Regions from separate parts of the Homo sapiens genome. Here all the other regions are linked to region 1. The links come from fine-mapping of genetic effects on plasma protein levels. A gene starts in region 1. Each other region holds a variant in brackets. All regions are shown on one strand. Distances are between the middles of the regions.

What was found. A credible set is the group of variants that fine-mapping cannot tell apart. PIP is the posterior inclusion probability: the model's chance that the variant is causal. The UK Biobank Pharma Proteomics Project read protein levels with antibody pairs (Olink). The fine-mapping took linkage between variants from a reference panel, not from the people measured, so its PIPs are less certain.
Region 2: its variant is the best candidate, but not a certain one, in a credible set for the plasma level of the PRELP protein (UK Biobank, PIP 0.72).
Region 3: its variant is the best candidate, but not a certain one, in a credible set for the plasma level of the PRELP protein (UK Biobank, PIP 0.56).

Annotation. Positions count from the first base shown.
Region 1 is chr1:203,474,182-203,476,944 of GRCh38, reverse strand. It overlaps PRELP (proline and arginine rich end leucine rich repeat protein), which reads right to left and starts at 1,139. Exons shown (of 3, transcript NM_002725.4): 1 at 1,007-1,139.
Region 2 is chr1:203,459,016-203,461,778 of GRCh38, reverse strand. No RefSeq gene overlaps it. Among named protein-coding and RNA genes, the nearest start is that of PRELP, 15 kb to the left of the region's middle. The variant C/T (reference allele first, on the strand shown) is at 1,284.
Region 3 is chr1:203,413,555-203,416,317 of GRCh38, reverse strand. No RefSeq gene overlaps it. Among named protein-coding and RNA genes, the nearest start is that of BMNCR, 7.3 kb to the right of the region's middle. The variant C/T (reference allele first, on the strand shown) is at 1,310.

The DNA of each region.
Region 1 (2,763 bases):
TTTTCTCCTCTGCCACAGGACCTTTTGCCAACCTAAATGGTTGGAATAATTTCAGAACGGCTTTAAAGAAAAATATTTTTCTGGCTGCCTGCAGGAAAAAAAAATAAAAAAATGAACTGTCCCCAGAGCTGGGAATTAGGACCTTCAAGGATTGGGAACTGGGTCGCTTTCTTCTTTCTTTCCAAAAGCCAAGTGGTTTGGACCAGTGAGACAGAAATTGAAAGCTGCTGAGAAGACACTGTGCAGGTTGGAAAAAGCCGTTTTTCTCTCCCTCCTACCCAGTGAAGCCCTAAATAATGAAGAAACCCTTCCAGCTCCCGCTCTTGCTTATCTCCTCCCTATTCGGCCTGGACTTGGGATGCAAGATTTTCTTCTGGCTCTGCCATCTCAGTGGGAAAACGTACTTTATCTTTGCTCTTACAGCTAGGGAGGTGTGTGTGAGAGGGCGAGAGACAAGATGCAGGGAACATGTGTGCATGCATGTGTGTGTGTGTCTGCTGGTGTCTGGTGATGATGTGGTCTAGCTCTGCATGTCAGATGCAGAGGGCAGAGGTGAATGGACAGGATGTCTTCATTTTGTATGGTCGTGTGGGGTGATGGTAGTGAACGTGCAGCCTCCGTGTGATGTGTGTGACTTCCACAATGTGTGACAATACACAAAAGGTGCAAAGAAATGGGTTCTGGAGTCCAGTTTCTATGGAAACACCTGATCTGTAGAAACACTTTGTGCAGCGTGGCTCTCTGTGCTACAACAAACATCTGCAGCAGGAAAGCTTAACTTTTGCAGTAAGCAAATATAGGGGTACAGAGTGATGAAAAGAAAAGGAAGAGGCTATAGGAAAGAAGTTAGGAAGACTAAATTTGAACTCATTTGAGAGGAGAAAGAGGTGGGAGGAAGGAAGGAGTGAGAGGATAGAGACTAGATCAATAAATGGACAGAGCTGGAGGAAACTTACTGGATGAAAGATTCTTCCCAGTCTCCTGCCCATCTCCCAACTGGGCTTACCTGCACACACCTGCCTCTCCTCTCAGCTCTGAGTTTAGTCCTCCTCTTCCACCCCCTCCCTTCGGCGGAGCTGTGGCAGCAGAGAGCCAGCTAGAAGATCTGATCTCCCAGTGGTGTGTGCGTGCTTGTGTTTGCCTGACTTTTCTTCCACCAGATCCTATTGGGGTGGGGAGGTTAGCTTGGGGGGAGGGAGGGGCAGATCATAGGGAGGGAGGGGAGGAGAGGAGGGAGGAGGGAGGGAGGGGAGGGGAGGAGAGAGGGAGGGAGCTTGGGAAAGGAGGAATGACAATAAAGTCTTTATTTGGCAGCCAAAACTCCCAAAGACTTCATCCACACACCATTCCCACTAACAGACTCATTTTTAATAACATTTCCTTCTGCTGCTGCCGCTTCTGGAGAGGGGTTGTTTGACCCATGTTTGGAAAACAAGCCAAATTAACAGAGTGAAAAGGCATGAAAAGCAACCTCTGTGTAAGCCAGGACTGGATGGCTGGGTCCAGCACTAGCCTGTTTAATTCCTCCTAACAATCGCCTTGCCTTCTGGGGCCGTTGCTCGGTAGTGTTAAATTCCTAAACCAGTGAGGGGTTTGGGATGCTTCCTCTGAGCAGTGACAGTCTTTCCCTAAGTTATCTTCTCCAGGAGGTTGCAAAGGGAGTGGAGTCTCAGGCTGGCATAGGAGATAACTTCGGTTTGGCTGCCAGGGCTGTTCTGAGAACCAGAGAGGGAGAAGTCTGGCCTGAGTTGCACAGCAAAGTTAAGGCAGAATTAAGATTTAATGTAAGACCTAAAGTCACTGTTCCTAGCTCATGTGGACAATGTAGTGGCTTCTTTCAGCTTCTCCATATCACACTTAGGTGAGATTTAGGGGCTGTGTGGTCATCACACAAAGTGATGGGAAATCCAAATTTCCCCTGTGCACATCAACACCCCAGAAGACCCAGTCAAGTAACACCACTACCTCTAACAATCCTCTAACAATGCCCCTCAATTAAGAAAGCACAACACACTTGCAGGTAAGTAGATGCCCATCAAAATTTCCTGCCATGGCCAGGCACAGTGGCTCACGCCTGTAATCCCAGTACTGTGGGAGGCAGAGGCAGGCGGATCACCTGAGGTCAGGAGTTTGAGGCCAACCTGGCCAACATGGTGAAACCCTGTCTGTACTAAAAATACAAAAAAATTAGCTGGGTGTGGTGGCGGGCATCTGTAGTCCCAGCTACTAGGGAGGCTGAGGCAGGAGAATTGCTTGAACCTGGGAGGCAAAGCTTGCAGTGAGCCAAGATCGTGCCACTGCACTCCAGCCTGGGCAACAAGAGCGTGACTCTGTCTCAAAAAATAAATAAGTAAATAAAATAAATAAATTCCTGCCATCCCAGCTGACTACTTAGAAAATGCAACGCAATTTTCTTCTCCATTATTGGTTCCATGGAGAGCTGCAGAGCCCCATGACAGGGGACTGCCTGCCTGCCCTCCGCAATATGGGGTAGAGGAGAGAACATTAAAATTAGGGTCTGCAGCCCTGGGCTCAGCCACCCACAAGCTATGGTCTTAGGTGAATCACTTGATCATGAGGACCTTCAGTTTCCTCATTTACAAAATATGGATAATATTGACCTCACAGGGTTGGGAAGATTAAATATTGTAAATGTGAGAGCACTTTATAAACTGGGAAGATATTAGGGTTTAGGAAAGGGATTGCGATGAATGGTAATTAGCCTAAGAAAAGGAGAAGGAAAAATAAAACCCAGACCTTTCT
Region 2 (2,763 bases), 15 kb after region 1:
TTAAATCAATTTTTAAAAATTATAATTTGCATAGAGTAACAGGTTACAAATAGGTACCCATTTGAAGTATACAGCTTGACAAACTTTGACACATATGTGTATGTATATATACCCATGCAACCACCACCCCAATCAGATGTATTGAAAAATGTTTTAAATTGAGAAAAATTATATATATTTAGGTTATACAACATAATGTGTGTGTATACATAACATACATTATGTTGTATAACCTAAATATATACAGTTACACACATACACATTGTAGAATGGCTAAATTGAGCTAATTAATATATAAATTATCTCATGTACTTCTCATTTTTTGTGGTGAGCATAAAAAAATGTATTCTCTTAGCAATTTTCAGTACACAATATATTCCTGTTAACTACAGTCACCGTCATGTACAATAGATCTCTTAAACTTACTCTTCCTTTCTAACTGAAATTTTGTATCCTTCGACCAACATCTCCCCAACACTTCCACCCCCATCCAGCCCCTGGTCACTGCCATTCTGCTCTCTGCCTCTATGGTTTCAACTTTTTTAGATTCCACATATAAGTGAGGCCATATGGTGTTTGTTTTTATGTGCCTGTCTTGTTTCACTTAACATAATGTCTTCCAGGTTCATCCATGTTCATGCAAATGACAAGGTTTCCTTCTTTAATGCTAAATAATATTCCACTGTGTATGTACAGCACATTTGCTTTATCTGTTCGTCAATCAATAGATACTTAGGTTGATTCCACATTGGTTATTGTGAATAGTGCTGCAGTGTACATGGGAGTGCAGATATCTCTTCGATATACAGTAGCCCCTTCTTATCCAAAGTTCTGCTTTCTGTGGTTTCAGTTACACACCACCACCAATGGCCTGAAAATATTAAATGGAAAATTACAGAAATAGACAATTCTTTTTTTTTTTTTTTGAGATAGAGTCTCCCTCTGTTCCCCAGGCTGGAGTGCAGTGGCTGATCTCGGCTCACTGCAACCTCCGCCTCCTGGGTTTAAGTGATTCTCCTGCCTCAGCCTCCTGTGTAGCTGGGACTACAGGTGCCCACCACCACGCCAGGCTAATTTTTGTATTTTTAGTAGAGACAGGGTTTCACCATATTGGCCAGTCTGGTCTCGAACTCCTGACCTTGTGATCCGCCCGTCTCGGATCCCAAAGTGCTGGGATTACAGGTGTGAGCCACCGCGCCCGGCCGACAATTCATAAGTTTTAAATTGTGTACTGTTCTGAGTAACATGATGAAATCCTGCACTCTCCCGCTTCATCCTGCTGG[C/T]GATATGAATCCGCCCTTTGTCCAGCATACCCACACTGTAGACGTTACTTAGTAGCCATCTCAGTAATGAGATCAACTGTCTCAGTACAGCAGTGCCTGTGTCCAAGTCACCCTCATTTTACTTAATGATGGCCCCAGAGCACAAGAGTAGTGATGGTGACAATTCAAGTATGCCAAAGAGACACCACAGAGTGCTTCCTTGAAGTGAAAAGGTGAACGTTTTCAACTTAGTAAGAAAAGAAAAAATATTGTAGGCTGAAATTACTAAGAGCTATGATAAGAAGGAAGCTTCTATCTATGAAATTGTGAAGAAGGAAAAAGAAATTCATGCTAGTTTTGTTGTCACATCTCAAATCGCAGAAGTGACAGCCACAGTGCATGACAAGTACTTAATTAAGTACTTGTATCCCCATGGATAAGCGGGGGCCACTACACTGATTTCCTTTCCTATGGATATATATCAGTAGTGGATTGCTGGGTCACGTGGTTGTTCCATTTTTAAGTTTTTCTGAGGAATCTCCATGCTGCTTTCTGTAACGGTTGTACTAATTTACATTCCTAAGGGTTCCTTTTTTTCCACATCCTCACCAACTTTGGTTATCTCGTGTCTTTGTGTGTGTGTGTGTGTGTGTGTGTGTGTGTGTCTGTGTTTGATAACAGCCATTCTAATAGGTGTGAGGTGATATCTCCTTGTGGTTTTACTTTGCATTTCCCCGATGATTAGTGATGCTAAGCATTTTTTAAATATGCCGGTCAAATGTAAAATATATTCATCACCATGAAAAATTTCATGTCATGTCACTTGCGCCAACCCAAAACCTTTCAGTGGGATTCCCTAATTTCTAGTAATAGTGGATAAGGTTATTTGGACCAAGCCTACCACTGAAAACAAGTAAAACTGACAGATAAATTTTTTAAAAAATTTTTTGTTTAGAAACAAGAGCTAATAAGACTTAGCAAGAGAGAAACAACCAACCAGACAAAATTAAAGGGAAAAAAATGGAAACCTCAGAGATGGAAACTAAAGGTTTGCCCCGAGGGTATTTGCTGATCCCAGTAAATCTCAACTATTGTTTTGATGTCTACAAGGGAAAGAAGATAGAAATCAATGCTCAAGCTGGGCTGGCGTGGTGGTTCTCGCCTGTAATCCTGGCACTTTGGAAGGCCGAAGTGGGCAGATCACTTGAGTTCAGGAGTTCAAGACCAGCCCAGCCAACGTGGTAAAACCCCATCTCTACTAAAAATAAAATTAGTCAGGTGTGGTGGCAGGTGCCTGTAATCCCAGCTATTCAGGAGGCTGAGGTGGGAGGAGCGCTTGAATCCAGGGGGTGGAGGCTGCAGTGAGCTGAGACTGCGCCATTGCACTCCAGCTGGGCAACAGAGCGAGACTCTGTCTCAAAAAAAGAAGAAAGAGAGAAAGAAAGAAAGAAAGAAAGAAAGAAAGAAAGAAAGAAAGAAAGAGAGAAAGAGAGAAAGAAAG
Region 3 (2,763 bases), 61 kb after region 1:
GTATAGGAATGCTTGTGATTTTTGCACATTGATTTTGTATCCTGAGACTTCGCTGAAGTTGCTTATCAGCTTGAGGAGATTTTGGGCTGAGACAATGGGATTCTCTAAATATACAATCATGTCATCTGCAAACAGGGACAATTTGACTTCTTCTTTTCCTAATTGAATACACGTTATTTCTTTCTCCTGCCTGATTGCCCTGGCCAGAACTTCCAACACTATGTTGAATAGGAATGGTGAGAGAGGGCATCCCTGTCTTGTGCCAGTTTTCAAAGGGAATGCTTCCAGTTTTTGCCCATTCAGTATGATATTGGCTGTGGGTTTGTCATAAATAGCTCTTATTATTTTGAGGTATGTCCCATCAATACCTATTTTATTGAGAGTTTGTAGCATGAAGGGCTGTTGAATTTTGTCAAAGGCCTTTTCTGCATCTATTGAGATAATCATGTGGTTTTTGTCTTTGGTTCTGTTTATATGATGGATTGCATTTATTGATTTGCATATGTTGAACCAGCCTTGCATCCCAGGGATGAAGCCAACTTGATCGTGGTGGATAAGCTTTTTGATGTGCTCCTGGATTTGGTTTACCAGTATTTTACTGAGGATTTTTGCATCGATGTTCATCAGGGATATTGGTATAAAATTCTCTTTTTCTGTTGTGTCTCCGCCAGGCTTTGGTATCAGGATGAAGCTGGCCTCATAAAATGAGTTAGGGAGGATTCCTTCTTTTTCTATTGATTGGAATAGCTTCAGAAGGAATGGTACCAGCTCCTCTTTGTACCTCTGGTAGAATTCGGCTGTGAATCGGTCTGGTCCTGGACTTTTTTTGGTCGATAGGCTATTAATTATTGCCTCAATTTCAGAGCCTGTTATTGGTCTATTCAGGGATTCAGCTTCTTCCTGGTTTAGTCTTGGGAGGGTGTGTGTGTCCAGGAATTCACCCATTTCTTCTAGATTTTCTAGTTTATTTGCGTAGAGGTGTTTATAGTATTCTCTGATGGTAGTTTATATTTCTGTGGGATCGGTGGTGATATCCCCTTTATCATTTTTTATTGTATCTGTTTGATTCCTCTCTCTTTTCTTCTTTATTAGTCTTGCTAGCAGTCTATCAATTTTGTTGATCTTTTCAAAAAACCAGCTCCTGGATTCATTGAATTTTTGAAGGGTTTTTTGTGTCTCTGTCTCCTTCAGTTCTGCTCTGATCTTAGTTATTTCTTGCCTTCTGCTAGCTTTTGAATGTGTTTGCTCTTGCTTCTCTAGTTCTTTTAATTGTGATGTTAGAGGGTAAATTTTAGATCTTTCCTGCTTT[C/T]TCTTGTGGGCATTTAGTGCTATAAATTTCTGCTAAGACCAGCTCGGTCGGGGAAACCCTAACCCAGCGATGCTAGAGGAATTAAAGACACACACACAGAAATATAGAGGTGTGAAGTGGGAAATCAGGGGTCTCACAGCCTTCAGAGCTGAGAGCCCCAAACAGAGATTTATCCACGTATTTATTAACAGCAAGCCAGTCATTAGCATTGTTTCTATAGATATTTGATTAACTAAAAGTATTCCTTATGGGAAATGAAGGGATGGGCCAAAATAAAGGGATGGGTCTGGCTAGTTATCTGCAGCAGGATCATGTCCTTAAGGCACAGATTGTTCATGCTATTGTTTGTGGTTTAAGAATGCCTTTAAGGGGTTTCCTGCCCTGGGTGGGCCAGGTGTTGCTTACCCTCATTCCGGTAAACCCACAACCTTCCAGCGTGGGCATCATGGCCTTCATGAACATGTCACAGTGCTGCAGAGATTTTGTTTATGGCTAGTTTTGGGGCCAGTTTATGGCCAAATTTTGGGGGGCCTGTTCCCAACAATTTCCCTCTACACATTGTTTTAAATGTGTCCCAGAGATTCTGGTATGATGTGTCTTTGTTCTTGTTGGTTTCAAAGAACATCTTTATTTCTGCCTTCGTTTTGTTATGTACCCAGTAGTCATTCAGGAGCCGGTTGTTCAGTTTCCATGTAGTTGAGCAGTTTTGAGTGAGTTTCTTAATCCTGAGTTCTAGTTTGATTGCACTGTGGTCTGAGAGACAGTTTATTATAATTTCTGTTCTTTTACATTTGCTGATGAGTACTTTACTTCCAACTATGTGGTCAGTTTTGGAATAAGTGCGATATGGTGCTGAGAAGAATGTATATTCTGTTGATTTGGGGTGGAGAGTTCTGTAGATGTCTATTAGGTCCACTTGGTGAAGAGCTGAGTTCAATTCCTGGATATCCTTGTTAACTTTCTGTCTCGTTGATCTGTCTAATGTTGACAGTGGGGTGTTAAAGTCTCCCATTATTATTGTGTGGGAGTCTAAGTCTCTTTGTAGGTCTCTAAGGACTTCCTTTATGAATCTGGGTGCTCCTGCATTGGGTACATATATATTTAGGATAGTTAGCTCTTCTTGTTGAATTGATCCCTTTATCATTATGCAATGGCCTTCTTTGTCTCTTTTGATCTTTGTTGGTTTAAAGTCTGTTTTATCAGAGACTAGGATTGCAACCCCTGCTTTTTTTTTGTTTTCCATTTCCTTGGTAGATATTCCTCCATCCCTTTATTTTGAGCCTATGTGTGTCTCTGCACGTGAGATGGGTCTCCTGAATACAGCAGACTGTTGGGTCTTGACTCTTTATCCAATTTCCCAGTCTGTGTCTTTTAATTGGAGCATTTAGCCCAGTTACATTTAAGGTTAATATTGTTATGTGTGAATTTGATCCTGTCATTATGATGTTAGCTGG